Linked DNA regions of Homo sapiens. The protein of the gene in region 1 interacts with the protein of each later gene in a pairwise test. Each region holds a gene or a part of one and is shown in the gene's direction. Other genes may lie near its edges.

What was found.
Region 2: the proteins of RTN1 (region 1) and HDAC8 come close enough for resonance energy transfer, tested with the Homo sapiens proteins (one study listed by BioGRID).

What each region holds. Positions count from the first base shown.
Region 1 is NC_000014.9:59,854,341-59,869,545, reverse strand, and holds part of RTN1 (reticulon-1), read left to right. Parts: intron 1-15,205. UniProt on the Homo sapiens protein: Inhibits amyloid precursor protein processing, probably by blocking BACE1 activity.
Region 2 is NC_000023.11:72,563,095-72,579,180, reverse strand, and holds the start of HDAC8 (histone deacetylase 8), read left to right. Parts: upstream 1-6,337; 5' UTR 6,338-6,419; coding exon 6,420-6,530; intron 6,531-7,071; coding exon 7,072-7,124; intron 7,125-10,296; coding exon 10,297-10,427; intron 10,428-11,150; coding exon 11,151-11,292; coding exon of another isoform or gene 11,293-11,296; exon of another isoform or gene 11,297-11,384; coding exon of another isoform or gene 11,385-11,424; exon of another isoform or gene 11,425-11,599; intron 11,600-16,086. UniProt on the Homo sapiens protein: Histone deacetylase that catalyzes the deacetylation of lysine residues on the N-terminal part of the core histones (H2A, H2B, H3 and H4).

The sequences.
Region 1 (15,205 bases):
GCCTGACGCCCTATTCAAAGTCTGAGCGCGCCAGTGTCCAGCGGGAGCCCAGGCCCCTGGCGCATCCTGGTCAAAGGATCCAGGAAGCGCGCTTTGAGGCTGCCGGCCTGGTTAACGCTGTTTCCAGGGAGAGGAAAGGGGATGCTGTGTGGTGCTCTTTCCTGAGAAAGCTTTGCTATGGTGGAGTGGGAGTTGTGTAGTTTTGGCAATGTAGAGCTAGAAGGCCTGGGGTGGGGGGTGCTCCCAGAGGAGGGGAAGGGGAGTGGGACTGGTGTGTGTGCTCTTGGTGGTTGATTTAAAGAAACCCCTTTTCGTAAGCTTCTCTTAAGGGTTATGTGGAATGTCTAAGGTAATCGTAATTAACTGCCCTGGTACAGAAGATCTGAGCTGGGGAAAAGAGGTTTGGAGAATGCGTTGAATAAAAATTGTCAATATCCTGAAAGGAAGAGAAAAAGTGGAGACCCTATATAAGAAAAAAGAAAAAGAAAGAAAGAAAAGTACTCAAAAGCCCCAACGCCAAACGCCAAAGGTTATATATTAATTATTATATCCCTAGGAGTGGGGGAGGATTTAAATCTAAGAATGGCTGCTCAGTCTCTCTTTCAACTTCTGCATCCAAGTGAAAACAAAACTCTTTATAATTGCAAAAGAAGATGGCAAATGATAATAGACAAAGGAAGGTAGTTTTTGTCTTTACCATTCTTTGTTGAGGATAGACTGCTCATAGTTCAGAATCTTTATCCACTGTAATCAAAGTAAATTGTTTCTTTATGAAACATTACCCACCTCCTATTAGTGCCACTAAGATTATGTGAACTAGAAAAAGGAAGCTAAGTGCCCCATGCTCAGTAACATATCCACAAAAGTTATTATATAGGAAATGCTTAGAATATATATTTGTGGGGTACAGTGTGATGTTTTGACATATGTCTGCATTGTCAAATGATTAGCTAACAAATCCATCATCTCATGTACTTTTTTTTTGTGGTAAAAGCGTTTAAAATTTACTCTTTTAGCAATTTCAAAATGTACAGTGCATTGTTACAGAAAGGTGGCTGTAGTAAATAACAATGCATTTTGCATTTTTAGTATTATTATTATAGAAATACCTTGCTTTATTGAATGTGTTTGGGGTTTTCTATCCTAGGCAACAAATATAGTAATAAAATCAAACATGATACTACGTTTGGATGGGAGAAGAATGAAGAAAGATGGAAGGAGCACATATTTTGCATATTTATATAGAAATTTTTTAGTTTATGATTGTGGCTAGAAGGAATTTCTGATATAGTTGTTGATTGGTTAATGTCTTAAATCTCTGTGTTTCTTATTAAGTAGACCGGATGTGCTGCTATAAGAGACTCAAACGCCAGAAATGCTGTATAAATAAATAACTAGATCTTAAAATTCCAAACAAATCTTGTCCAGCTTCCTGGTCTGTTATTTTGGCAGTTCTATTGCTATAAGCAAAGTTAGCAGGTGAGCCCTCAATTGTATCAGAGATGCCTATTAAGCACACTACTTTACACTGTATTTCTTAATTTACTTTTTTTTGGCTTATAAACAGAAATTTATTTTCTCACAGTGCTAGAAGCTGAGAAATCTAAGATCAAGGTAGATTTGGTGTCTGGTCAGGGTCTGCTTCCTGGTCCACACACAGCTGTCTTTTCACTGTGTCCCCACATGGCAGAAGAGTGCTTTATTTTTTTAAAAGAGTGGTGCTTTTTTGGGACTCAACTCAAACTAAGAAGTAACTTAGACTTTGAGTGTGATGCACTGTAAACAGATTTTGTTTCTTTTTTAGATGGAAATATAAGACAGATATTGATGTTTTAATAACTGTTTTTCTGAAAAACATCACCAATCATGCCATCTGGACAGATATTCTGTTATTTATTTTTATACATTGATGGTAATTAAAATTATCCCAGGAACATTTCCAAAAATATGTCTCAGCAGTGTCCTGGAATGAATATAAGTTTAAACATTATTAAAACTGCACCATAAAACTCCATCAATCCTCTATTTTCAGGTGTTCTCATTGCTTCTGTCCCTTTTGTGGCGTGGAAATAGTCTCATCAAAATAACACTGTCTTCTAAAGTTACAACTTCATGTCTAAACTGATAATGGACATGTGAAATTATGTGTGTTGACAAGGGAACATTTAATACACCGTAGGTAGGCTACGACATGTTAGCGTTGTTAATCATAAAAGTGCCATCATCTAATAACTTTATACAAAGAATGTTAAGAGCAACTGTTCTGTTTTTTCATGATCAGTTATTTTATTACTGGAAACTATTCAAAAGGAGCATACAATAACAAAAGGAAAAAAGAATGGTCCTTTGTTTAAAGAAAGAATTTTAAATAGAACATCTGAACAAAATGAAATAGAGGTTAACTCATTGCCTGCTTTGGAAATTAACTCATTGACTGCTTAATATATGGAAAGCAAAATCAAGAACATGATGGAGAATGGTCAGGAAAAATCAGTCCAATATGATTTGCTGCAGTGATATCAATTTATAAATAATTTGACTTAAATTTCAAGATAATTACAAAAAGCATTTTCCAATTTACTTTACATGGACCATATTGTTTATATGTCCTCATTTTTCAAATGCTAAATGTGATGCTGTATTGGAAAAACATCTTCTAAATTCCATTTGGAGGCTAGATTAACTGTCTTCACTTTTGGATGTGTTTGACAGATGTGTAGACATTTTTTATTTGGAGTCATTTCCAGGTAATCCCCTTCAGAAGGTATAAATTTCCATCTTCTTTCTTTTGAGAAAGCTACAGTTCTATTGAAATGGTAAGGAACATTACACTGTGCCATTACTATCTTTAAAGAAACATATAAGATGAATAAAAGAGTTTGGAAAACTAATGCAATTTATTTCTGTGGGCATATCCTCTGGATACAATCAATACCATTTCTGGAAGTAAGTACAATATATGTTCTTTAATATAGGGAATTCAAATTAGGTTAAATTAAATTTAGGATGCTTACATACTTTTAAAATACATTGATAAATATTATAAAGGCTTTCAGGTTAACTTTCCCTTCATGAACTTACTGTTCCAAGAAAACCACCCTGCTCATTGCCCTGCTCATAGGCTCTCCTCTCTCCATCTCTTTTTTACTTCTGATTCTGAGGGTTGAGAGAAGCATTATTGGTTATCTTGCCCATTTTATTGTCTATCCCTGGGAGCATGGATTGCAAGGATTACAGAAAGCTTTTATTATCTTTTGTAAAGTGAGAAACCATTGCGGTTCAATTCAACTTAGTAGACTTATGTTAAATGCCTCCTTTGTGTAAGGATCTGTGCTAAACACAGGTCAGTCATGACTTCCTAAAACATGTGCACCTTTCTGATTCACAGTATTTAATTTAGCCAAATAGTTCCTTTTGTGTTATTTTTCATTTTCTTCATTCCCAAGTTATTGCTGGAAGCTTGACTAGAAGGGAATTATAATAATCTAACCCCATGGGCACAAGGGTATGAGTTAGTTTTCTGAGATCAACACAGGATAAGTAAATATGAGCACAGCTTGCTCAGACTGTGAAAGACAAAATCTGTCTTTTTGTCTAGCTGTGAAAAACAAAATCTTTCTCTCCCTTTATTTCTATCATCTATCTCATTCTCTACATCTTCAAAGAAATAACTGGCTAAATGTTACATCAAGATCTTTGGATTAGTTAGTTGTGATTTTATTCAACAATTAGATTATTTCAGTGGTGACTAAGGGAGTTTTGAAAACGATGCTGGAAAATTTAGAGGGCAGTGAAAATAAAAGACATTTCAAGAGACAAACGTATCTACATAGGAATGCTCTAGGCTAAAGTCATTGTAAAGAACATGGTCCAAAAATGAAAGACAACCAGTTTTGTTTGGTTAAATAATATTTGAGGGCAAAGAGAACAGTGAGAAGAGTGTGAGCCAGAGAGGCCCACTGTTTGTGGAAGATGCTGTAGTGATAGGGTATGAGAAAAGGGAGGGAAGGGCTTCTCAATTCTTATTTGAGCTCCCTAATTTAAAATGGACAGTGATTCTTAAGTTGGAAAATTGAAACATACAGAAAGAGATACTGGGATCCCAGGATAAGTAAACAGAAGGTAAAATCTTGTATTACTACTTTGATGAGATCAGTTCTTCACATCCAACTACTTTACATCTCATGGAATTGAATGAGTGTGCTGAGCAGCTTTAAATTCATTCCCAGTATCTTTGGAGAATAAGACTAGGGCTAGAAAAGCTGAAATTGATAAGTGATTTTCAAAAAGGGGAAAATGGTGGATTCTTAAAACTTATAAACCAATATATTTGACACTGACTGCTGGTAGAATCTAAGAATGTGTTATTATGCTAAATATTCATAGACCCTTAGAAAAGAATGAATATATTGTTCAGAAATTCCCTCTAGTTCACTAAAAAATAATGCCTGTACAACATTATTTCCCTCTTTTTCAGATTTTGAATTACCAACATGTATGTAGCCCTTCCTATGTCTAGGAACTCTGCAAAACGCTCAACTGACATAAAGATATAGAAAGCATGCTCTTTAATTTATAAACTGCACAAAATTTCAAAGGATGGCTGATATGCTACAGGGTAGCATTGCGATGAAAAAAATCTTGATTTTAATGTTTATTCAAAAGCAACAAGATAAATCTGTTTATTAAAATTATTTTTGTCCCGATTTAAAAATTGGGGGTGGGTAGAAAATACATACACATGGTATTAAAATCTAAAAGGTACAAAAGGGTAAGTAGAGAAAAGGAAGTCTTCACACCTTACCTTTCAACAATCCATTGCCCCTCTCCAGAGGTAACCATTGTAATTAGTTTTAGCAAGAGAGCATTACTTATGATTATACTACTATTTATTGAACTCTTGCTATATGTCAGGCTTTGTCTAAGCACTGAGGATTATAGTACAGAAAAGGACAGATAAAAGCCTCTCATCCATAAACTATACTTTTTTTTTCTTGGTGGGGGCAAGGGGAGAGAGTAAGGAAGGGCAACAGAGACCAGAACATCTATATCAAGGGATGATTAAGTATTGTGAAAAAGGTCAAAACAGAGTAATGGGAATGAGAGGGATAGTCAAAGAAGACCTCTTTGATAAGGTATCTTTAAAGCACAGACTTGAAGGAAGTGACACAACAGTCTTGCAGATGTCTGAGAGAAGAACATTTTGGGCAGAGGGAATTTCCTTTGCAAAGGCCCTGGGTGGGAGTGTGCCTAGCACATTGAAGGAACCACAGGAAGAGCAGTGAGGTGGAGTAAGCAAGGGGAGAATGATAGGGGATGAGCAAAGGGTCAGCGGTAGAGAGGAGTGGATAGATTAGGTCCTATAGGCCCTTGTAACAGCTTTAAATATTACTCTGAGTGTGATGAGAGCCACAGGAATGGGAGAGGTGTTAAATAGAGAAGGAACATATTTAGAGTTCAGTTTTAAGTTTAATGACTCACTCTAGTCACTGCGTTGAGAATCTAACATGGGGGTGGTGGTGGTTGGTGTGGAGCAAGAGTGACCTACTAGTAGGCCATTGCAATAATCTGAGAAAGAAATCATGGTGGCTTGCACCAGAGTAACAGCATTGGAAGAGGTGAAAAGTGGTTGGATTCTAGATATATTCTGAATGTATGTAATGTGTTAGAAAGAACACAAGGGACATGCCATGATTTTTGGCCTGAGTAAACACAAGAATGAAGTTGTTATTAGCTGGGGTTGGGAAGACTTTAGGAAGAGCAAGTTTTAGGGAAAAAACAGGAGTTTGGTTTTACACATGTTAATTTTTGAATGTCTGTTTGGTGTCCAAGTGGAGATGTCAAGTAAGCAGTGTAGAGTGGGGCTGGGGAGTGATCTGATCTGCTTATATACATTGGGAGTTGTTGGTGTAGAGATGAGATCACCAAGGGAGTGAGTGTTGACAGTGATGAGGTCAAGGAGTCCTGGGTCACTCAAATATACAGAGGTCTTTCAAAGAAAACTGAGTAAAAGTGGGCGACGAAGTAGGAAAACTGAAAGAGACTCCAGAAGAAAAGATAAATATATGTCAAGAGGAATAGAATGATTGATTCCGTCAAATGCTGCTTGTGGTTAAGATAGAGACTGAGAGCCAGCCACTGGATTTGACAATGAGGAAGTCATTCAAAGTGCCGGGAAAAACATCTCGGTTGAAATGGTTTTAGAGCAAATGAGAGGGGAGAAAATAAGAGATGGTATTTGTAGACTTGACTCTTTGGGGGAGTTTTGTTATAAAGGAAACTGAATAAGAGGTAACTGTATGGAGAGTGAGATGAAAAGAAGGGAAAGTATTTTTTTTTTGCTATGGAGAATATTAAGGCATATTTGCAAGATGATGTAAATGATGCAGTAGTCAGGGAAAGATTGGTGTTGCGGGAGGTGGGGGCATTTCCTGAAACTGTGTCTCTGAATGAGTAAGCAGGGATGGATCCAGCACACAGACAAGGGCTGATATTGGATAAAGGTGAGGACAGTTCATGGCTATAATGGAGGAAAGACAGAGGAGAGGGCACACCTGCAGGGAGTGGTTGGAGATGGGGCTGAGAACAGGTGGAAGTTTTCCATTAACTGCTTCTATTTTATCAATGAAATAGGAAGCAGGGTCAACAGAGTGAAGGCAGGAGTGGAATTGTTGAAAGTTTGAGAAGAGGGGAGAAGGTATAAAATTGTCGTTTGGGAAAATGAGAGAGTGAAAGGACTAGGGCAAACTGAGGGAACACTGAGTAGCCCTTGGGGCTCACTTAGAGCTTAAAGTGAGACCAATCACTGTATATGTTATCTTGTTTTTGGTTTAGAGTGCAGGGTTAGTTGGATTGATTTTTGTTTTCCAGTGATCCCAGTGGGAACAGATGGGAAATGGATTTGAGGATATATGCAAGGCAGTATATAGATGCTTGGTCTTGGAATCTGCTGAGGAGGAATGAAGCATAGTAAAAAGATGACATAAGCAGTGGATTGTATATGCTGGCAGGGTTGCTAGAGTAATGGTACTAGAGTAAGGGAGATGAAAGGATAAGAGATGATGATTTGGTAGCTGGGGTGTTTGAGGTAGATAGTAGGAGGGGTACTATTACTGAGAAGCAGTGGAAAACTGAGATGGAGTGGATGACAAGGTCATTGGAGGAGTCCAGAAGAAAGGTGAAAATAGGAGTGAAACAGTCACCTACATGATTACTGACATCACAATGAACCATGACAGATCCTGGGAATTACAGTAAACCAGACGCTAATGGATATCTTTAGGAAGGGACATAATGGCCTAGGATTCTGCCTAGGGGCTTTTAGGGGGAAGGAAGAACAGTGGCCTGTAACATTATAAATGTAAAATGTTGACTATAAGTTCTGAAAATTCTATTTAATATGTATAGAACGTAGGAGATGCAACTTAAAATAGTTCATGGTGGGGGTTGGGAATTTTGTAATTAGCTAAATATGAGCTAGTGGTATGGTGAAATTACTAAAATATCTTATGTAATTTCAGATAGTATTAATAGAAAGTCTCAGGTGCACATTATACGAGGTAATAGCTCCCCTAGATTCTGTTCTAGGCAGGCCAAATTTGGATTCTCATACTAAAGGGTAGGTGCCATGTTTTGAGAGACATTGACGAGCTATAATACGGTGAGAGCAGGGCAATTGGGAGGCTTTTGGAAAACATGCCATTTGAGAGATAGTTAAAGAAATTAAGAATTTTTATCCAAAAGAAAAGAATGAAGATCTGAATGTTAAATACTAGAAGAACTTTCATGAAGCAAAGGAAGAAGACTTGACCCAGCTGATTTCACAGAGCAAAATTAGGACTAGTGATGTGGAGAAGTAGATTTCTTCTGAATGAAAGAAAATGTTCTAATAATTAGAACTGATCAGAAAAGACAGATTCTCTCCCAGTTAGTGATGTTCAAGCAAAAGCCAGGTTGCCATTTTAATGTGGGGAAAGCAGAAAGGAAGTCATTAGTTACACTAAGATGTTTATATCTTCCTAAAAGACAACAGTGCCCCTAACTTGACATTGTTATTGTTACATTATTACTTGTATTAGTCCATTTTCACACTGCTGATTAAGAGATACCCGAGACTGGGCAATTTACAAAGAAAAAGGTTTAATCAACTTACAGTTCCATATGGTTGGAGAGGCCTCACAATCATGGCAGAAGGCAAGGAGGAGCGAGTCATGTCTTACATGGATGGCAGCAGGCAAAGAGAGAGATTGGGCAGGGAAAATCCCCCTTATAATACCATCAGATCTTGTGAGACTTATTCACTATCATGAGAACAGCATGGAAAAGACCTGCCCCATGATTCAATTACCTCCCGCTGGGTTCCTCACATAACACGTGGGAATTCAAGATGAAATTTGGGTGGGGACACAGCCAAACCATATCATTCTGCCCCTGGCCCCTCCCAAATCTCATGTCCTTACATTTCAAAACCAATCATGCCTTCCCAACAGTCCCTCAAAGTCTTAACTCGTTGCAGTATTAACTCAAAATTTTATAGTCCAGTGTCTCATCTGAGACAAGGAAGTCTCTTCTGCCTATAAGCCTGTAAAATCAAAAGCAACTTAGTTACTTCCTAGATACAGTGGGGGTACAGGCATTGGGTAAATATAGCCATTCTAAATGGGAGAAATTGGCCAAAACAAAGGGGCTACAGTCCCCATGCATGTCTGAAATCCAGCAGGGCAGTCAAATCTTAAAGCTTCAAAATGATCTCCTTTGACTCCGTGTCTCACTGATGCAGGAGGTGGGTTCCCATGATCTTGGGCAACCAGGTCACACTGATGCAGGAGGTGGGTTCCCATGGTCTTGGGAAGCTCTGCCCCTGTGGCTTTTCAGGGTACAGCCTCCCTCCTGGCTCTTTTCATAGGCTGGCATTGAGTGCCTGTGGCTTTTCCAGGCACATGGTGCAAGCTGTCGATGGATCTACTGTTCTGGGGTCTGAAGGACAGTGGCCCTCTTCTCACAGCTCCACTATGTGGTACACCAGTAGGGAGTCTGTGTGGGGCTCTGACCCTACATTTCTCTTTTGCACTGCCCTAGCAGAGATTCTCCCTGAGAGCCCCACCCCTGCAGCAAACTTCTGCCTGGACATCCAGGTGCTTGCATACATCCTCTGAAATCTAGGTGGAGGTTCCCAAACCTCAATTCTTGATTTCTGTGAACTTGAAGGCTCAATACCACGTGGAAGCTGCCAAGGCTTGGGGTTTGCACCCTCTGAAGCCAGAGCTTCAGCTTGTCCCCTTTCAGCCATGGCTGGAGTGGCTGAGAAGCAGGGCACCAAGTCCCTAGGCTGCATACAGCACGGGACCCTGGACTCACCCATGAAATAATTTTCTCCTAGGCCTTGGGGCCTGTGATGGGAGGGGCTACTGTGAAGACCTCTGACATGCCCTGGAGACATTTTCCCCTTTGTCTTGGGGATTCACATTTGGCTCCTTGTTACTTATGCAAATCTCTGCTGCTGACTTGAATTTGTCCTCAGAAAATTGGGTTTTCTATCACATTATTAGGCTACAAATTTTCCGAACTTTTATGCTCTGTTTCCCTTATGAAACTGACTGCCTTTAACAGCACCCTAGTCACATCTTGAATGCTTTGCTGCTTAGAAGTTTCTTCTGCCAGATACCGTAAATCATCTCTCTCAAGTTTGAAGTTCCACAAATCTCTAGGGCAAGGGCAAAATGTTGCCGTCTCTTTGCTAAAGCATAACAAGAGTTACCTTTGCTCCAGTTCCCAGCAAGTTCCTCATTTCCATCTGAGACCAGCTCATTCTGGACCTTATTGTCCATATTGCTATCAGGCTTTTGGTCAAAGCCGTTTAACAAGTCTCTAGGCAGTTCCAAACTTTCCCACATTTTTCTGTCTTCTTCTGAGTCCTCCAAACTGTTCCAACCTCTGCCTCTTACCCACTTCCAAAGTTGTGTCTTTTCAGTATCTTTTCATGTTTTCCAGTATCTTTTCAGCAGCACCCCACTTTACTGGTATCAATTTACTATATTAGTCAGCTTTCATAATGCTGATAAAGACATACCTGAGACTGGGCAATTTACAAAAGAAAGAGGTTTAATGGACTTACAGTTCCATATGGCTGGAGAAGCCTCACAATCATGGTGGAAAGCAAGGAGGAGCAAGTCATGTCTTACATGGATGGCAGTAGGCAAAAAGAGAGATTGGGCAGGGAAACTCCCTTTTATAAAACCATCAGATCTCGCTATCACGAGAACAGGATGGGAAAGACCTGCCCCATGATTCAATTACCTCCCACTGGGTCTGTCCCACAACACGTGGGAATTCAAGATGAGATTTGGGTGGGGACACAGTCAAGCCATATCATTATTTTAAAATTATTCCATATTTCTCAAAAAATAAACCACATACTAATGAAACTGGAAACTGTGTGCATCACAAAAACCATAGTTACCCCAAATTGACTACTTAAAATGTGCTCTTCACAGACTTGTGGCCTTTTAAAAATCCTCCTCTAGTTCTCCCTTGTCAAGAAAAGTCCATAATGTGACATATTTGCTTCTTAAGAACTATATAATTTTATCCAGTTTTGGATTATTAACATAAATATAAAATATGTTATCTGCAAGTATCTCTTTTATTCTTTTTGCTGAATTATCTTCTTCATTTTTTACTGAATCTAGTTTCATAAATATTCAACATATTTTAAAATGTTTTGGAAATTCATTAAATAATTTTGTAATGCTAAAAGCATCATACGATCCTTTCCTTCTTTCTCTGCCTCACTATCTGTATATTTATGGAAGATTATTCATTGGAAAACTATGTTTCCTGGGTTGCTTAATGAATTAAATTTTTAGCTGGAAGAATTCTCCATTCTAATTTCCGTGTCCAATCCCCAAATGCCTTTTCTAATTCATCTATTGCATGAGATTTTTTGTAAAATCTGTTATAGACCAAATTCTTGCTTTCTGAGTTTGGAAAATTTGTTGACGCTCACATTCTCCAAAATTCCTAGAATTTTGTTTTATGCATAGCAAATCTTTGGCTTTCTAAAAAAAAAAAAAACTACTCTTGAACAACAGAAAATTATGTGTATTTGAATGATTCCTGATCTAGTTGACAAGCAAAGGAATAGAAAACAATGTCATGTCTGCCTTTGGCATGAATTTTTCAGCTCACTCTGAAAAAATCAGGGCTTCTCAAAATATGGTCTATAAACTACCTGCTCCAACATCACATGGAGTGACCACAGACCTCATCCTAGGGAAGCAAGCCTACCAGGTGCATGTTAAAGCTGTAAGAAGCACTGATTTATTGGCTTTCCTGCTCATGCTTGGCATTTTGTAGGAGACGTGGGGAATAGAGGAGCATGAGCCATGTACCCTTTCCCCATTTCCTCCTGGGCGTATTACCATCCAGTTGGGAGATATGGCCAACTCCCACAAAGCAAAGATGAATAACTCAGGTCAGCATGCAGCTTGTTGCTTGGATGGATGGTACAAGCTATATGTGTGACACGAATTTCATGACTGTATGGGTTCCAATGTACCTGGTCTCTTGAAGGATGGATAGAATTGGAAGGGGGCAGAAGTGAGCAGAAAGGCAGTCTGAGTATGGGGATGATGACAAGGAAGTGAGCAATGATGAGCCTAGTTTCATAGCTTATCCAGATGAGGAGAAGGAAGATTCTGGAGGGCTTGAGGGCTACTCAGAACTCTAGTCTCCTTTCTTATGGATTCTGGGATCTTTGCAGGCTTATATGTAAGGGAAGTAATATCACAGAGCTATGTTAAGGAAGATTAGTCTGACAGTAGAATAGAAGATGAATTCAATGAGGATAATTCTAAAACCTGCGAGTTTTGCTGGAAGAAAGCCAACCCAGTAACATCAATTTCAGGGCCTCTAATAAGTAACCATGGGAATAAAGAGGGAGGTACATGGGAAGAAAGATGAGAGGCTTCACAAGAACAGTCAACAGGACTTTGTGACTAACACACATTATCTGGGGACGAGGGGAGGAATAAATAAAAAATGGCTGCAGTTTTGTGCCCTATGGCTGGGAGAATGTTATGCTATAGAGGGTGGGAGGGGGAACTGGCTAGAGGAGAGAGGATAATGAATTCACTTTTAGTCATATGAGGCTTGAAATAATGACAAGCCATTTGAATGGAAATTTCTACTTGGCAACTGTAGATAAAGAAATGGATTTTGTAGGTGACAACAGGATTGTTGATATGGATTTAGAAAATTAGAAGAGAAGCCATAGAGATTATGTAGTATGGAAAGGACAGAGGACCAGGGACAGAGCAAATACTCCTTGCCCCTCATTAAAAAAGCTTAAAGCTTTAGCTTTAAGCTCCCTGAGCCTCAGATTCTATAGTTAGGTATATATGGTATTAGGTCTTGTGGAGTGCCTGGCAATCATATGGTAAATACAGGTACTCCTATTATTATAGTATCACAAAAGCCAAGATGACGTGGTACAGAATGAGCCCTGACTGAGAGATCAGATTTATCTAGTCTTGGCTTTGGTACCTAATATCATGTCAATGTGGGCAAGACATATGACTGCTTTATGTATCAGTTTCTTCATATATGACATTGCATGAGCACAGTACTGTTCTGGCTATCTTACAGGGTTATGTGAAGATAAAATGGGATAACACAAGAAGATGCATGGAAATGGCAGATAACTCTGTATCTATAAGGTACTATTAATAGGAAGCCTGGTCAGTAGCGTCAGATGCCATAGAGAATGAAGATTGAGAATGAACCTCAACCTTAGATGTTTTACTATAAAATGCTTGCTGTGCCAAGCTGGACCTCAGCCAAATAGCAATGGGGAAGCTCAGGAGAGCAAGGAAGGATTGGGGGTGGAGAGAAGTCGGTTTTGGTAATCCACATGGGAAGACATTTTGGAGGAGGGCAGTAGGAGTGGTGATCTGCTGCGTTTCCCATGTCCTGATGAGTGATCTGTGAGTACAGGGCTGAGGTGTGCCCGTGGGGACCAGCTGGAATGAGGGAGGACAGCAGATGGAATCTATTCTGATTCTCCTATTCAGTGGAAGGGCAATAAGCCTAGGAAGCTGTCCCAGGTATGTGTGGGAGTTGGTCTGGAAGAGGCTGCTTCTCTTACCAGAGAAGGCAGCACAGCGAAAGCTAGCTCCTGCTACCCGCCAGTACAGGGCTAAATCAACTGGCCCTGTGGGCTTGTGGGAATCTGCAGGCTAGTCTTATAACTCAGTAGATTAAAGTCTTATATAAAAACATGATTGCTCTAGAAAGATGGAGTCTCTATCCCTTCTGCTAAATACAGCTAAAAATCCTGGACATTGCATATAAAATAAATAGAAAGGGACTCTGAAAGGTGAATGAAGAGAAGAAGACAGTCTTACTAGAGATCATGGGACCTGTGGAAGGACACAGCAGTGAGTTCTCGGGGTTTTCTGTTTTCATCCTATATCTCAGGCTGGATACTGGAGAAGCCAACAAGCAGGAAATGCCAATGGGCACAGACAAAAAACACCCACAAAAAAAGCCTGCTGTTTCTAGCGAAAGGACCAGAAAACGGCATCCTAGCAGGATAGAAAACTTTTAGACAGTAATCACTGTATCCAGCCAAACACCATGAAATAAACTGAGGTCCCACCTCCATGCCCACCACAAAAGCCAAGGAGGGAGCCTAGACTTCCACCTTTCTGAGGATGTAAGAGACACCCAGCACTAGTAAGGCTTTGGCACTTAATTCACCTGCCAGCTAATGTGGTGTTAGAGGAAGCCTAGAGGAGAGTCAGGAGTTTCATCACTGCTCAGTGATGAGACTGAGTGGAAAACCTGGACTTCTATTTAAGCAATATATATAGTCTCAAGACATAATACCAAAACTGTCCAGATTTTAATGGAAAATTACAAGAACCAGTAGGATATGAACTTGAATGACAAAAGACAATCGACACCATATTAACACAGATGGTAGAATTATCTGAGAAGGATTTTAATGTAGCCATCACAAAAATTATTCAACAAACAATTACAAACACACTTGAAATAAATAATAAAATAGAGAGTCCCCAGCAAAGAAATAGAAAGTCCCAGCAAAGAAAAAGAAAGTCTCACCAAAGAAATAAAAGCTATAAAGAACTAAATGGAAATTTTAGAAGAAACACAGTAATCGAGATAATTTTTATAAAAGCCTCAGTAGGTGGGCTCGACAGCAGAGTGAAGAGGAAAGAAGAAAATGTTAGTGAATTTGAAGAGAAACAATAGAAATGACCAATCTCAACAACAGAAAGAAAACAGAAAATAAAAGGGGATAAATAATAAAATCCCTGTTCTCTGTAGCACAGGAATGTTTAGACGACATGTTCCCTTTTTCAAATGTTCATTGAGTATTCATATTAATAGGGTACAGTGAAAACAGACTGACAGGTATATTGCCTCATGTTTGCTAAATGCACAAAATCTAAGCCATATTGGTCCAGATGGGGGCTTCAGGGAAAATAACCATATAGTACTACTTTTAGTTGTTGAGATGTTTTCCACATTTACAGTACTTACTGATTTCTGATCTGTACTTATATGCACACATAAGCTAAGTTACTTATGAAACAAGCATTTCTATAACACTTACAATGTGTTCTGGGCTGTTTACATTTAATCCTATCCTTAATCTCAATAAAGTAGGTATGGTTATTTTCCCCATTTTACAAGTAAGCAAACTGAGATAGAGAGAGATTGAGTGACTTACCTATGATCATATAGCTAGTAAGTGAAGCATCCAGATTTGATGAACCTTGGCAGTCTGGATCTAGGGTTCATGCTCTTAATTATTTCACTCTGTTGCCTATTTTAGGCTTTTCTTGTGCAGCATCTATTTTTTTTTTTTTTTTTTTTTTTTTGAGACGCAGTCTTGCTCTGTCTCCAGGCTGGAGTGCAGTGGCATGATCTCGGCTCACTGCAGCCTCCACCTCCTGGGTTCAAGCGATTCTCATGCCTCAGCCTCCCGAGTAGCTGGGATTACAGGCAGGTGCCACCACACCCAGCTAATTTTTGTGTTTTTAGTAGAGATGGGGTTTCATCATGTTGCCTAGGATGGTCTTGATCTCCTGACCTTATGATCTGCCCGCCTTGGCTTCCCAAAGTGCTGGGATTACAGGTGTGAGCCACCGCGCCTGGCCACAGCATCTATTTTATGATC
Region 2 (16,086 bases), on another chromosome or scaffold:
AAGTTTACAACCTGTTCTGAAACTATTTGTCTTTTCACTGGTTGTAAGTGTACCCCAATCTCAGGGAGTATATCTGTAGTGCCACAGGCAAAAGATCCACTCCTTCCCACACTCATTTGCCTGAACTTACTCGAAGGGCTGCATTTCTCTGAGTTTACGAAATTGTGTCATTATGGTCCCCATACAGTGGTATTTAACTTTTAAAGCAACTTTTAAGAAAACTCGACTTGTTTTTTGTTCATTTTAAGTGTGTGGTACTAAAAAGACATGTTAGACTTTTTTTAAAAAAGCACTTATGTTTTGAAAATAGAATAAATAATAAGAATTTCCAATTAAATCATGTCTGGTGCCAATGTGCAAAACTTCACATGTGTTTTTGTGATTGGAGTTTATTTCATGGCTTTATTCTACATACTCTGCTTAATTATACAGTACAGTCAAAGCTCATTCATTGGGTTGAAGTAGAATAATATTAATATATTAATACATATATAATATATTATACATTTCATAATATGTTAGATAATATATGTAAAGAAATGCAGTTTAATCATTCAAATACATACCCACTCAAACAAGGCTTACTAAATTCAAGCGGGCTTATTGACATCTGTAGGGAACATTTTCTTTTCTTTTCTTTTCTTTTCTTTTCTTTTCTTTTCTTTTCTTTTCTTTTCTTTTCTTTTCTTTTTTTTTTTTTTTAAGACGGAGTCTTGCTCTATCGCCCAGGCTGGAGTGCAGTGGGGTGATCTCGGCTCACTGCAACCGCTGCCTCCCGGATTCAAGCGATTCTCCTGTCTCAGCCTCCCGAGTAGCTGGGATTACAGGCATGCGCCACCACACCCAGCTAATTTTTTTTGTATTTCTAGTAGAGACGGGGTTTCACCATGTTGGCCAGTCTGGTCTCAAACTCCTGATCTCAGGTGATCCGCCTGCCTCAGCCTCCCAAAGTGCTGGGATTACACTCGTGAGCCACCGCGCCTGGCCTGTAGGGAACATTTTCTGATGAATGAGTAAAACATTTTTACTCAGCCTTTCAATTGTGTACAAATGGTGCTTCTTCCCTAATGAAGGGTATTTTAAAACAACTTGTTTTTCTAAATATTAAAAATATTTGGCAGAATCTTGTTTGTTTATACTATTCATTAGCCTTTTCTATAACAGGATTTATCCAGCAAGGATGAACATTGTCTCTACAGTTCCATCCTGGTTAATGAAATTTTACTACATTCTGGGAATCTTACACAACTGGTGGGGCAAAAGTTGTTCTTCACCACAGCTGGCAAAACCTCTGCCATTCCTTTTTCTACTTACCAAGTACCTAGTGTCTGCACTAATGCAGTGGAGATTATTTTCCACATGTAGTCTTCATTTCCTTTTTATTTATTTAATTTTAAAAAAATACAGCCATCAATTTTTATTCTTATATTTGGTAGACATTCATTTCCTTTTTAACTTGAGTAACCTCAGGTGTTGGTTTGTCCAGGGCAGCCCCCATTTATGCCTGTTTTACTGGCATAATTATCAATAGCACTGTGTCACTCTCAAAAAATGTCTCAGTTTGAAAGATATGGTCACCCTATATTTAGCAGATGTGTGATTTCTTTTAAGGCTAAGCCAAAAAACCAAGAACTTATTCTCAAACCACTAGTAGTACTTGTGCAGTAGTGGTATGGGGGTAAGGATGACAGTAGGGGGAAACTCCCTTCCCCACCAAATATAGAAATATTTGGCATAATGGCTCTTAAATAACCAATATTTGAGCACATACCAAATGCCATTGTTATATAGGCACTTAGCGTGAGCCATTTTATCTTCACAATTGCCATGTAAGATAGATACTGCCATCTTACAAGTAAGCTACCTGAGGCACTGAGGGTTTAAGTAAATTGCCCCAAATCAATCATCTAATAAGTGATAGAGCTGGAAGTTGAACCCATGCAGTCTGACGCTAGCGATCACATTCTCAACAATGACACTCTCCAAGGAAAATGACATTAAGGGGGTGGTGTGACAAGGGTCAGTTGAAGACAGTTGAAGTGTCACTGGACAGATAGTGAAATGAGCAGAGAAGACTCTGCTCATTCACTGAAGGGTGGTGCCCTTGTAATGTGTTTGCCTCCCCTTCTGGGGAAAAGCAGGGGAAAGCACCAAAAAAATATGGCACAGCCCAACCTGAACTTACCGGTTCGAATGTTACTTTTAGCAATAATGATTGAGGAAAGTGAGTCAAGTAACTTGCCCTGGGTCACCACCCTAGCAAGCTTTGAAGCCAAGATTCAACCTACTTCCTGTGACCTCAAGTCCTCCAACTGCAAATAAAGTGCATTGAGAAGGGTTTTCTTCCCAGTTTAAGAACCATATGGGTGTTACGAATGTGGAAAATTGAGGTGAGGGACCTGTGGCATGATGTGTGCTCTTTCTTAACCATGAGCAAGCGTCTAGCCGCCCTTTGAGATTAGCTGCAGGAATAGGTTGCCAATTCCAGAGCATTGTGCAACAATTTATCTTTCTCCATAGCTGAATCATCTTGCCACATTGCATGGGGTACTTGGATAGTGTTTCCAGTTTAGAGCCATTCAGCTATTTGTTACTAGATCAGAAAGGACACATGAAACAATACCTTTTCATGTCATCCAAGAAGAGTCCAGAATTTAGGGTATCAGTTGGCCAGTCTATCTCCTGCCCTCTTTCCGCTGCCTATCCCTGAAGGCCCAGAACAAGTCTCATTTCTCCTTATGTTGCCCGTCATCATGATCTCACCTTTCAGTCAACTCCTGTAGCTTCTCCTGTCTATAAACATGTGCAGTTTTCTCTTATCTTAAAAAAATTTCTGGGCTCCGACGTCCCCTCAAGCTGTTAGACTAACTCCTTCCTTTCACAATCACATTTTTTCAAAGAGGAAGCTACACTTAACTGTGTTGGCTTCACTTCTTAAACCCCCACAATCTGGCTTCCTCCCCACCTCCTGTTTTGTTTTGTTCCATAGGGCACCAGTGAATTTCTAATGACAAAAAGGGGTCTTTGACCATTCCTTGTCTTCTTTCTGACATCTTTTTCTCCTCTAAACTCTTACACACAGGCATTTCCAAAAATGACACTCTTCTTCCTAGCTCAGAGGTCTTCACCAGAGTCTGGGGCAGGTTTTGTGACATGATCTGATTTACTTTTTTTTGGAGGTTCACTCTGGTGGCTGCAAAGATAATGGGTTGTAAGGCAGCAAGAATGGAAGCAACGCCCAGGTTGATACTGCAGAAAGTCTAAGTGAGAGATAATAGTATCCAGACTAGAGTGGTGGCAGTACAGAGTGAGAGAAGTGAATGTATTTAAGGCATGTCTTGGACATAGAACCAATGGAAATTTCTGATGGACTGGATCTGCAGGTGAAGGAAAGGAAGAAACACAAATAACTCCCAGGTTTCTGACTTAGGCAACTGGATAGATGTTGATATCTTTACTGAGCTATGAAAGATAGAAAAGGAGTGGAAAGAACTTGGGTGGGGAAATTGGGAGCTTGGTTTTGAAAATGTTGTTGGATATGACTGTTAGGCATCCCAGTGGAGAAAGCCACATCCCTTGCCTAGCTCAGCCACTCTTATGACTTCAGTTTTCTCCTCTTTATATGGAAAAGTGTGTGTGTGTGTATCACTGCAATTGTTTAACCCACTAATTTCTGAAACACTTTTCAACACTTTTAAAATCAGAATCTATGTCTATTCTGCCCTACTGTATGAGTTCTTCCTCCCGATTGCCCTCTTTCTTATATTGCTACCTCTAGTCTTTTCTTTACCCAGAGTTTACATTTAAGAGTTTTCAGCAACCCTTTTCCATCTTCCTCCCTCTCACCAATATCCAAGTAATAAAAAAGTCCTGTTGAACCTACCCTGTACATTATTTCTCCTTTGTTCCCATTGCCCCCACCCTAGTTTAAAATCATTATCACTTCTTATTTGGACCATTGTGGCACTCTAACTGCCCCTAGCCTTTTAATGACTAATCTTTCCTACACACTGCTGCTATAGAAATCTTTTTTCCTTACTATTTCTGTCTAAATATGTTTTCCCATTTCCCACAGAATGTAGTCTATTCTCTTTAGCCTGGTATTCAATGTTCTTCATGATCTGGCCCTTTTAGCTAAACTCGACTAGAAATTTTCCCTTTTGTGTTACTGTTTATGCTGTTCATTCTAGTCAGCATGCCCTCTCCTGGCTCCCATCTTCACCAAGCAAAATCTTGCCCACCTCCTAAGACCCTCTCAAATGCCATCAAAGATGAATTCTAGTTACCATTTATTAAATGCCAGTTATTTAGTACTTAATGCTTATTTATTAAGTAGGCTAAGCATCCTACATTCATTGACTCTGCATTGCCTTTGGTTTCTTGTGTACTTGCCCCATCTTCTGTATAAGAATGCAAATTCTGGCTGGGCGCGGTGGCTCACACTTGTAATCCCAGCACTTTGGGAGGCCGAGGCGGGCGGATCACGAGGTCAGGAGATAGAGACCACGGTGAAACCCCGTCTCTACTAAAAATAAAAAAATTAGCTGGGCGTGGTGGCGGGCGCCTGTAGTCCCAGCTACTTGGACAGGCTGAGGCAGGAGAATGGCATGAACCCGGGAGGCGGAGCTTGCAGCGAGAGGAGATCGCGCCACGGCACTCCAGCCTGGGCGACAGAGCAAGACTCCTCTGTCTCAAAAAAAAAAAAAAAAAAAAAAAGAATGCAAATTCCTTGAGAGCAGAGATCACATCATAATTTACCTTTGAATCCTCAGCTGTACTGTACACTTAATATCAGATAAATGTTTGATGAATGAATGACTGCAGAGCTTTTAACTAGTTACTATGGGAAGACATAAATTAAAGAAACATAAGATCTTACATTCTAGTTACAGAGCACATCACCAAAACACCCCCAAGATTTTCAGAATAAGTATTGAAGGGATACAAAATGGAGGGTGAACAAAGTTATATCATAACACAAAGTCATCCTGGACGAATCAAGTTTATATAATAAAGGGAATGTTCAAAGGCTTCAGTGTCAGGCTGACCTAATTTTGAATTCCTACTTATCTGCTTGTTAAGTATGTGATTTTGAATGTTGTTTCTCTAAACTGCATCTGTAAAATGGGTGTATTGCAACCTCCTTTATAGGACTGTTGCAAGGATGAAATGAGATAATATGGCCAATGTGCATGTCACAATCTTCAATAAATGTTTAAAGTCTAAAAAGCAAGCCAGACTTTAAATATAGTAAGGATATTAGGTTGTCCCAGTGGTGTTAGTCAGTCAGTTTAGGTTGCCATGAGAATTAAGATCCTGAGCACTGGCCAGCTTGTATCAGATCATAGGGGCCTCCAGGAACCTCCAAATGCTGATGGTAATTCTAAAACCGCCTCAGATAGTCTTAAACTGGACCCTCACACCAAACCTAAAATATTTCCCTAATCTATGTTTAGCTGCAGAAACAAGAGGAGGTAGGAGGAGAAGAGCTGCAGTTTCCAAACACCACTGCTTGCAACCTTCCTACCACATGAATGTTCAAGGAGTTACATTTGACATCATTGCTTGATCGGAATCTACCAAGCAATTTCCACTGCACCAGCCAGTCTCTTGGGAAAGTACTATCAGATTTGCCAGAGTAAATTATTGAGATTGTTAACTCTCATGTGGACATGGATAGTTAATGATGAAAAGAAATGAACTATAAAATTGCATCACAGAATTTACTGTGTAAACTTTTCAAACCATTTGTGCCATTAAATAGCGCCCCCACCAAAAAAAAAAAAAAAAAAAAAAAGCCTATCCTTAGGATAGGCAGCTGATGTAGCTGGATGGTGGGGGCTCTAGGTGGCCACGTTCTATCTGTGTTTATATGGTTAAATGGATGAAATGGATGTGTTTGCAGATTGAAACAATTCATAAAGAGTTGAGGCTACTTTTTTTTTTTTTTTTTTTTGGTCTTAGCGCTGAAACTAAAAATCGCGGTTATTTTAGTGTTTAGCCCCGGCTCTTCCGTTGCTCAAACCTCCGGAAACTACATCTCCCAGCATGCTGTGAAACTGGTCTGACTTCATCTCAAATGGCCCCGTAGGGCAACAAGGATGGTTAGTTTTGACCCTACTTATTTGTGCCATAAAAACAATCGATCCTAATTGACAGCTATTTGGACTTTTACATCTGCCAAACCCTTTTCCTTGAACTGTGGTCACTAAATGAGGGGAGTCTGGTCTGGGAAGTCCCATCCATTCCTTCAATAGGATGGGGAGCGGTGATAGTGTCTCCGGCGATCTCAAGAATAGGAGGGAATGTTGACCAGGGAGCACCGCTGCGGCCGATCAGAGGAGCAGGAACTGGAACCCTGGCCGAGTCCGAAAAAAGCCAGATCTGGAAGGTGGCTGCGGAACGGTTTTAAGCGGAAGATGGAGGAGCCGGAGGAACCGGCGGACAGTGGGCAGTCGCTGGTCCCGGTTTATATCTATAGTCCCGAGTATGTCAGTATGTGTGACTCCCTGGCCAAGATCCCCAAACGGGTAAGGGAAGTCGGGATGAAAGACCATGGGCTTTGGGGGTGGGGGTGGGGGCGGTGGACGAAAGAGCGTTAGGAAGCGGAGAGGACACTGGGCTGGGGGAAATCTTCAGAAATTTCGAGTAGCTGTATCAGATACCTAAAGCTGTATCAGAAGGAAGTGTTCTCATATCGTTTCTGAGAGCGCAGCATGTCTCTTCGGGACGTCCAATGGACAGGTAGGAGTGGGGGAGGGGGTACGGAGGAGGGGAGAGGACGCAGTTTCCACTCATAGGGGACCGCTGAAGTCGTGGGAAAACAAGCTGCAGGGGGAAGGTGTTCCATCACCTGCCTAAGGCCCGGTAGCTTTCACCTTAGTGATTTTGATACTTTGTATCTGTATTGTCTAAAGTGTATTGTAACTGTTAACAGAAGGGAAGCCAGTTGAAACAAAATTAATCCGTTCCTTTGTTCAGGATGGTGAGATTGACGGGGATTTTGCTGAATTAAACTTTAAAGAGACTATTTCTGCTTTTCTTTTTTTTTTTTTACGCTGATGTTTTTAGGCCAGTATGGTGCATTCTTTGATTGAAGCATATGCACTGCATAAGCAGATGAGGTAAGTTGTCTTTCTTGAACATAGCCCTGAAGCTAGGTGTTCGTAGCCTTAATATCCTGCTTCACAGTGGGGCAAGGAAAAGAATGGTCTTTTGAAAAAATTATTTTAGCTTTCTGTGAAAGTATTCACAGTGTTTGTAATCTGCCTGTAATCCCAAGAAAGCTCTTGAAGAATTAAGAAAACTTGGGGGGCCGAGAGCATGGCTCACGCCTGTAATCCCAGCACTTTGGGAGGCCTAGGTGGGTGGATCGCCTGAGGTCAGTAATTTGAGACCAGCCTGCCCAACATGGCAAAACCCCGTCTCTACTAAAAATACAAAAAAATTAGCCGGACGTGGTAGCGGGCGCCTGTAATCCCAGCTACTCGGGAGGCTGAGGCAGGAGAATCGCTTGAACCCCGGAGGTGAAGGTTGCAGTGAGCCGAGATTGCACCATTGCACTGCAGCCTGGGCAACAAGAGTGAAACTCCGTCTCAAAAAAAAAAAAAAAAAAAAAAAAAAAAAAGAAAGAAAGAAAGAAAAAGAAAAGAAAACTTGGGACAGGGGAGTGGAAAGTGCAGGAAGCAGTTAAGGTTCATTAGAAATACAGCTCGATTGCTTGGTTAAGTATCCCAGGGGTAGGTGCAGTGCATTGTGGAGATTTTGAGTACATTTGGGTATTAAAACCTGTCTCATACAAAAAGGTGTTCAGCTAGGAGGTGTTCCATTTTTCTTTTGATTTCGTTTCATTCTAAGCCAGATTTGAGGGTGTGAGTTCAACCTAAGACTTTTAGACAACCCACCACCAGCACCAAACTTTAATGGGTGAGGCTGGAGACAGATCAAGACCAAAGAAGGCCGGGCGTGGTGGCTCACGCCTGTAATCCTAGTACTTTGGGAGGCTGAGGCAGGCGGATCATGAGCTCAGGAGATCAAGACCATCCTGGCTAACACGGTGAAACCCCGTCTCTACTAAAAATACAAAAAATTAGCCGGGCGTGGTGGCAGGCGCCTGTAGTCCCAGCTACTCGGGAGGCTGAGGCAGGAGAATGGTGTGAACCCGAGAGGCGGAGCTTGCAGTGAGCCGAGATTGCGCCACTGCACCCCAGCCTGGGTGACAGAGTGAGACTCCGTCTCAAAAAACAAACAAACAAAAAAGACCAAAGAAAACTGCCAAGACTGCGCCAGAACTCAAGAGAGAGCTAACTGTTTCTTCCAAAAACATGAACTTGCTGTTTATTGCCATTTCTGTATTTGATGTCGTTATAAGAGCAAATATAACCCTGCCACATATAGGATTACTTATGACAATTTCTGGCCAAATAGGTGAGTGCTCATACCAACTAGTGTGCTATGCTTCATTTATCTCCCAGAAGGTAGTGTAATAATAGGCTTTCAGATTTTATCCTTATTATTAACAAAATCATTTTGTACCTTTTAAAGGGAATTTTTAAGCCTTTTTTTTTTTTTTTTGATGGAGTCTTGCTTTGTCGCGCAGGCTGGAGTGCAGTGGCGCGATCTCGGCTCATTGCAACCTCCGCCTCCCAGGTTCAAGCGATTCTCCTGCCTCAGCCTCCCGAGTAGCTGGGACTACAGGCACGTGTCACCACACCCATTTTAAGCCATTTTTTAACCCATATGGTTTGGTTAACATAGTAACTATATGCCTTCCATTAAAGTTATTTAACATTTCAAAAAATTATTTTATGACAAACAAGATATCAAAGCAAAGCAAAACTGTCCAGTTTGCTTACTGTTAAATAGGGAGGTTTTCAGTAAGTGTTTTTTAACATTTACCAAAATAAATGGAAGGGTACTAGAAGAGGGAGCTTTTAGGACTGGGAAATACGGTCCGAGATATTACAAAATTTTTATTTTAATGGGTAGATTTTTCACCTCTGGTGGTATAGATTTGTCTTCTTTAAGAAGAAGCAAGAATTCTTGGGTCTTGGCTATGTATTTCACTTTTGAGGCCAAACCACAGGATTTCTTCCAGCTACCTTGGTGATAGTAGTAGCCTGTATAGTCGTATTCATTCATCGTAAACTCATGGCTGTGTTCCCATTCAGCAGACATTTAAAACCACTGCTGCCTCCCTGTGGCCCAGGTCAGGGCTCCTTCAACTTGAATGTGTATATGAATCACCTTAAAATGTGTCATCTTGTTTAAAAATCATCATGTTAAAATACAAATTCTGACTCAGGTCTGAGGCAAGTCTGAAGTTCTGCATTTCTAACAAGCACCCAGGGAATGCTGATGCTCCTGGTCTATGGACCACCCTTTAAGTGGCAAGGGCTAGAGAACAGTAGTGGCAGCTGTGGGGTCAAGAAGAGGAAATGGGGAATAGGCAGCTAGAGGTTAGATGTGGTAAGGCCTCTTATTGGGTTAGCTCCCTTTATTCCCTCACTCGCTTCTATTTGTCATTTTTCGTGAGGAGTAGGTTGAGAGGTTCTGAGTGAAGTCCGGTTCCAACCATTTTGCCCCTTCTCGCCTCGCTCTCAGAGGCAGATAGGAGGGTCCAAGTCTAGAAACATTACATTTTGGGTTGCCCATTTTTTATCTGTTAATAGAATGATAGTTATCCACCAAGCATTTTTGTATGTGTTATCCTTTTATCTTCACATAAGTCCCATAAAGTTCCCCATTTTACAAATAAGAAAACTGAACTACAGAACAGTTGACTTATCTGAGGTTATAGAGCTAGTAAGTACAGAATTAGGACAGGAACCCAATTCTCTGACTCCAAATCTGACTCCAAATTCAAAATGCATGATAACATAGCTGCCTATTAAAATAAAGATATAGCTGAAAGGATTAGATAGCCCAATTCGCAACTGGTTCAAATGAAAATATCCCTGCCTACTAGTTTGTCCTGAAAGTTGTAACTCACAGGGTAAAGTCTGTCTGATACCTGATTATTTGTTTAACTTGAATATAATTACTTTTGTTTACTTACCTATAAACTCAAGGGAAAATCTATCTTCTTGCCCCTTATTAATAGAGTCACTACTGTAGATGTGAGGCAGTGAAGACCGCACAGTGCAGTGGAAGAACAGAATATGTTTATTACTCCAGCCTATTGGAACCAGAAGTTGAGACGTATTTTCTTCTCAGACTGCTGGCTTCTGTTTCTAGCTTCTGGCATACGCTGGGTCTGACTCACTGACCTCTCTTTGTTCTCTCTGTTATTATTAGGATAGTTAAGCCTAAAGTGGCCTCCATGGAGGAGATGGCCACCTTCCACACTGATGCTTATCTGCAGCATCTCCAGAAGGTCAGCCAAGAGGGCGATGATGATCATCCGGACTCCATAGAATATGGGCTAGGTAAAGTCATTACCAGGCAGTGATGGGAGATGGACAGACTAATTTTTTTTATAACTTGTATGATTTTTTTAATATTTTTCGTTAAGAAATCATGTGTTAACTGTCAATCTTAATCTTTTGGTTTAGCCACATATAACTCACTAAACAAGCAAACCATATGAGTTGAGCAAAACCACATGAAGGGTTAGATGAAAGAAAACCTTTCAGTTGCTTATGCCCTACTGGCAGTGCTCAGATCTGGTCTGGCTGTGTATATGCTGATTTAGCTGTCCTGTGACCTTATATTTTAACTGGAGTACAGATTTATGTTCTGGCTAAGTTTTTGTACCTCACCCCTCATTAAACAGCTGCATTTTTTAAAACTGTAAGTGACCTGCAGGATAGTCTAGAAAAACAGCATGGTTTAGCAGAGGAACATTGAACTGGGGGGTCAACAGAGCTGGGTCCCAAGCCTGGCTCTGTGTGACCACTGACAAGACACATCACCTCTCAGGCTTGGTTTCTCTATCTGTAGCCTGTGACTAGTTCATCAGGAGGGTTTATCCTTTCTAGCTCTAACCTTTTAAAATATTATATCCCCAACATTGGAGTTGTTTCTGTCTCAGTTGGAGCTGATATTAGCACAGTGGCTTTTTAGTAGGTTAGGTTGTTGTCACACCTCAACCTATTCCTCCTCTTTTTCCAGTTCACCTTTTAACCAGCTCTTCTGATTTTTGCCCTAAGGTTATGACTGCCCAGCCACTGAAGGGATATTTGACTATGCAGCAGCTATAGGAGGGGCTACGATCACAGCTGCCCAATGCCTGATTGACGGAATGTGCAAAGTAGCAATTAACTGGTCTGGAGGGTGGCATCATGCAAAGAAGTAAGAAAATGACCTTTCTGTTTTCTGACTCTTTCCTTGAGTCAGTTTCTCAGTTATGTAAACTCTTATGCTTATTGTATTGACATTTACAGAGAGACGTGTGTGTATGTGGCACTTTACAAGGCATTCTGAAGAAATCCAAGTGAAATAGAAAAAAGATTACCTAATATAGTGGAAAGCACACTGCTCAAAGTCAGGACACCTGGGCTCTACACCTAGTTTTTCTAACTTGGCTAACTGACTTGGACTGATTACCCTCCCTAGGCCTCAGTTTCTTCATCAATAAAATGAACAAAGGATACAACTAGACAGTCTCTAAATTCCTTTTCGGCTTTCTAGAAATTCCCCTGTCTTCGAGGGACTTACAGTCTAGAAACATTAACAAAATTAGAATAGAGAACAACATTAGTTATGGTACCAATGGAATATATGTATGAGCTGAAGAGACTTATCAGTAGAAAGAAATTAATCATGGAAGTCTTGGCAGAAGTGAATTTTAGAGCTAGTTCTTAAAAGAAGTGGCAAACAGATTTTTAAAAAGGTGGAAAATTGACGCTAATAGGTTTAAAACAAAAGGCTGAAGAATCAAGAAGAGGGCTCATGCTCCTCTAATGAAAGTAGCAACCCAGAGGTAGATGTCTCTCAAAGACAAAGGGCTTGTGAAAAGGCTCTTCCTAGGTGCTTCTTGGAGTTAGAGGAGAAGTCCTTTGGAGTGTTTGTTTGTTTATTTGTTTGTTTGTTTTTGAGACAGAGTCTCGCCCTGTCGTTCAGGCTAGAGTGCAGTTGCGCGATCTCAGCTTACTGCAACCTCCTCCTTCCCAGTTCAAGTGATTCTCCTGCCTCAGCCTCCTGAGTAGCTGGAATTACAGGCACCCGCCATCATGCCCAGCTAATTTTTGTATTTTTGTAGAGACAGGGTTTCACCACGTTGGCCAGGCTGGTCTTAAACTCCTGACCTCAGGTGATCTGCCTGCCTTGGCCTCCCAAAGTGCTGGGATTACAGGGGTGAGCCACCGCGCCTGGCCACCTTCTAGAGTTTTATGTTAACATGTCAAACTGCAGTAGTCTGTCTGAGAAGGATTGCTGGGCCCTCCTTCAGCATTTGGGACTTTGTTTGATATTTCTGTAGTACTTAATCCACATTGAAGAAGAAGGATTTTTTAAACTCTGAATTTATCGATCCTCTGTCTGAGAGAAATGAAGCCACTGTGGTAGTAACTGCCAATGCCTCACTCAGGAATCAATTGTTCATGCAATCAACCGTGACCTTAGGTGCTCTTAGGTCAAGAGAAAACAACACTTTGTTTTTCAGAATAAAACACAGCACAACTTCAGCATATGCAGGTTAAGATAATAACAGAATTTTTTCCATCAAATTGACAGATTTTGTGGCCAAGGAAGTCCTTGAAAAAGTTTACTGCTAGAATTTACTAGTTGGGCAACACAGCAAAGGAAACCAATGTTTTAGTAATGAGTCTTACATGGTTTTAAAAACAGAGACAAGCTGCCTTTTGTTAGCTTTTGCTTGCTTGCCTGCTTGCTTTTTTCTTGCTTTGTTTGTTTGTTTGTTTGTTTTTTGTTTTTTGTTTTTTAATAAAGACAATGTCTCCCTATGTTGCCCAGGCTGATCTTGAACTCCTGGGCTCAAGGGATCCTCCATCCTCAGCCTCCCAAGGTGCTGGCATTACAGGTATGTGCCACCACACCTGGCCTCTTTCTTTCTTTCTTGTTTTGTTTTTTTCGAGACAGAGTCTCTCTCTGTCACCAAGGCTGGAGTGCAGTGGTGCAATCATAGCTCACTGCAGTCTCGAACTCCTGGGTTCAAGGGATCTGCCCACCTCAGCCTTCTAGGTAGCTAGGACTACAGGCACGTGCCACCATGCTTGGATAATTTTTGTATTTTTTGTAGAGATGAGGTCTTGCTATGTTGCCCAGGCTGGTCTCAAATTCCTGGCCTCAAGTGATCCTCCCACCTTGGCCTCCCAAAGTGCTGGCATTACACATGACAGCCACTGCACACCGCCTGCCTTTTTTTTAAATTCAAAATAAAGACAATGACTGCTAGGAGAAAAAAAATGACCCTCTCCCCTCCCAGGTGCAGAGTGAAAGGAGAAAGCTAAGCTTCTCTGAACGAAAGACTTCTAGGTCCTCTTGGGCTTGGCAAGTTGAGAAGAAAAGTAGTGTGGCTTCATAGAAAAGGCTTGCTTCTATGAATGACATCCAGTTTATTATGCAATTAAATTAACTGCAGAAGGCCTACTAGGGCCTGGGTCATTTTCCAGTGGAGTACTCTGCTTCTTATTACTGTTTTGCTGCCAAAGGAAGTACACTCTGTCTTGACCCAATCACGACTGCTTCTGGGCTGCACACAGACATGGGGATACCCACATATATCGCCTTAACTGTTGTAGACATCTTTCAGCTGATCCTGCATGGAAACGGACATGCCTGTGATAAATATAAATTACAGAGTCTCTAGAGATTGCCCCAGTTTAGGTCTGAATTCCAAGGTGTTCTTGGCATAACTAGAACCTCTCTGTAGATGGACTACAGGCATTTAGGCCACAAACTTACATCTAGCCAACATTTACCTATTATAATCACAATATTTGCTTAAACTTCCCATCTGCAAATATATGTACAGATTCATACATGCCATTTATTCATTGAACAAGCATTGATTAGGCACCTACTACATGTCAAATGTATGTTTATCATCACCAGTAAGCAGAGATATAGAAATTGAAGCAAGATATATTGTTTCCCCTACCAAGTTTGAAAAAGATTCTTTATTTCAAAATATCCAGGTGGTAGAAGGATTACAGTGAAATTAATACAACCCCTTTTGAAAACCTTGGAAGTGTTAAGAATGGGAAAAAATGTTCATACCAGTTGGGCCAGTAACAATATTCTTGGCAATCTATTCTAAGGAAATAAACCAATTCTACCTGCAAGAAATTTATATCTTAGGAGTAAGACAGCAAATAATTGCATTTGAAAGCTAAAAAAGGATGATTTTCAAAGAATATTCTACAAAAGAAGAGTAACGAAGGACTAATACTATTAGATATTAAGCATCCAAAACTACAGTAATGAAAACACTGGTACAAAAATTAGACAGATAGGTTATAGTACACCCCCCACCCCAACAAAGAGACCAATTATATAGAATTTAATCTATTACAAAGGATGCATTGCAAGTGAATGGGAGTTGAAAGGTCTGTTGAGTAAATGAATGGTATTGTGACAGCTTGTACCATTATACCCTCATCTACTGTAATAAACTAAAATGAGTGACAGCTAGATTGAAAAGTTAAATATTTAAAAAAGCAAATTTTAAACACTAGAGTGAATGGATATTTATCAAGCTTCTAAAGGGGAAGAATTTTCTAAGCTTAGAAAGTAATTTTTTAAAATCACAAAGGAAAAGATCAAACCCGACTGTACAAAATTTTAAAACCAAAATAACTTTTAAAAGGTTTTTTGGCTATTTTCAAAATCTAAACACAGACTGAAAAAGCCTATGTATCATAAATATGACAAAGTGTAATAGGCTTGTATTATCTAACCCACTCCTACAATATAATGTATAAGAAGAAATCTGCACAAAGAACACGAATAGACAATTTACAAAGGAGTTTAAGGACAACTGGAAAACATTGGAAAATGTTCATCACTACTAATCAAAGAAATGTAAATTAAAACCATTAGGTAAGCCTCTTTTTTTTGAGACAGAATCTCGGCTCTGTCATCCAGGCTGGAGTGCAATGGTGTGATCTCGGCTCACTGCATCCTCTGCCTCCCGGGTTCAAGCGATTCTCCTGCCTCAGCCTCTTGAGTAGCTGGGATTACAGGCGCGTGCCACCATGCCCGGCTAATTTTTTTATTTTTAGTAGAGACGGGGTTTCACCGTGTTGGTCAGGCTGGTCTCGAACTCCTGACCTCATGATCTGCCTGCCTCGGCCTCCCAAGGTGCTGGGATTACAGGCATGAGCCACCACTTTTTAAGCCTAAATTTAACAGAATTGAAAAAGATGGTACTCAGTTTCCTAGTGAGTGTGGTTTGGAAGAAAGCATTTTGGTAGCCAATGTGTATTAATGCCCTTTGATCAGGTAATCTTACTTCTGGGAATGTGGCCTAATTTTTTTTTTAAATATGGGAAACAAACTATTTTCATGAAGGTATTTATCAGTGTTATTTATAAAATTTTAAAAACTAAAATAACATGAATGCCTAGCAATAAAGGAATGGTGAATCTACTCCTTAGAATATTATCCTATTGTTTTACTGTTTTTCTTCTGTGCAAAAGCTTTTTGTTTTTATTTATTTATTTATTATTTACTTATGAGACAGGGTCTTGCTCTGTCGCCCAGGCTGGAGTGCAGTTGCACGGTCTTGGCTCACTGCAACCTCTGCTCCCCAAAGGTCAAGCAATCCTCCCACATCAGCCTCCTGAGTAGCTGGGACTACAGGCACATACCACCACACCTGGCTTTTTTTGTAGAGATGGGGTCTTGCCATGTTGTCCAGGCTGGTCTCTAACTCCTGGGCTCAAGCAATCAGCCCACTTTGCCCTCCCAAAGTGCTGGGATTACAGTTGTGTGCCACCATGCCCAGCCTTATGCTATTATTTTAAATAATGATTATAAGGATTATAGGGAACTTCAGATAAATACTTTATGTGTGTCAATAAAAAAGCAGGTCTTGGCTGGGTGCAGTGGCTCATGCCTGTAATCCAAGCACTTTAGGAGGCCGAGGCAGGTGGATCACCTGAGGTCAGGAGTTCAAGACCA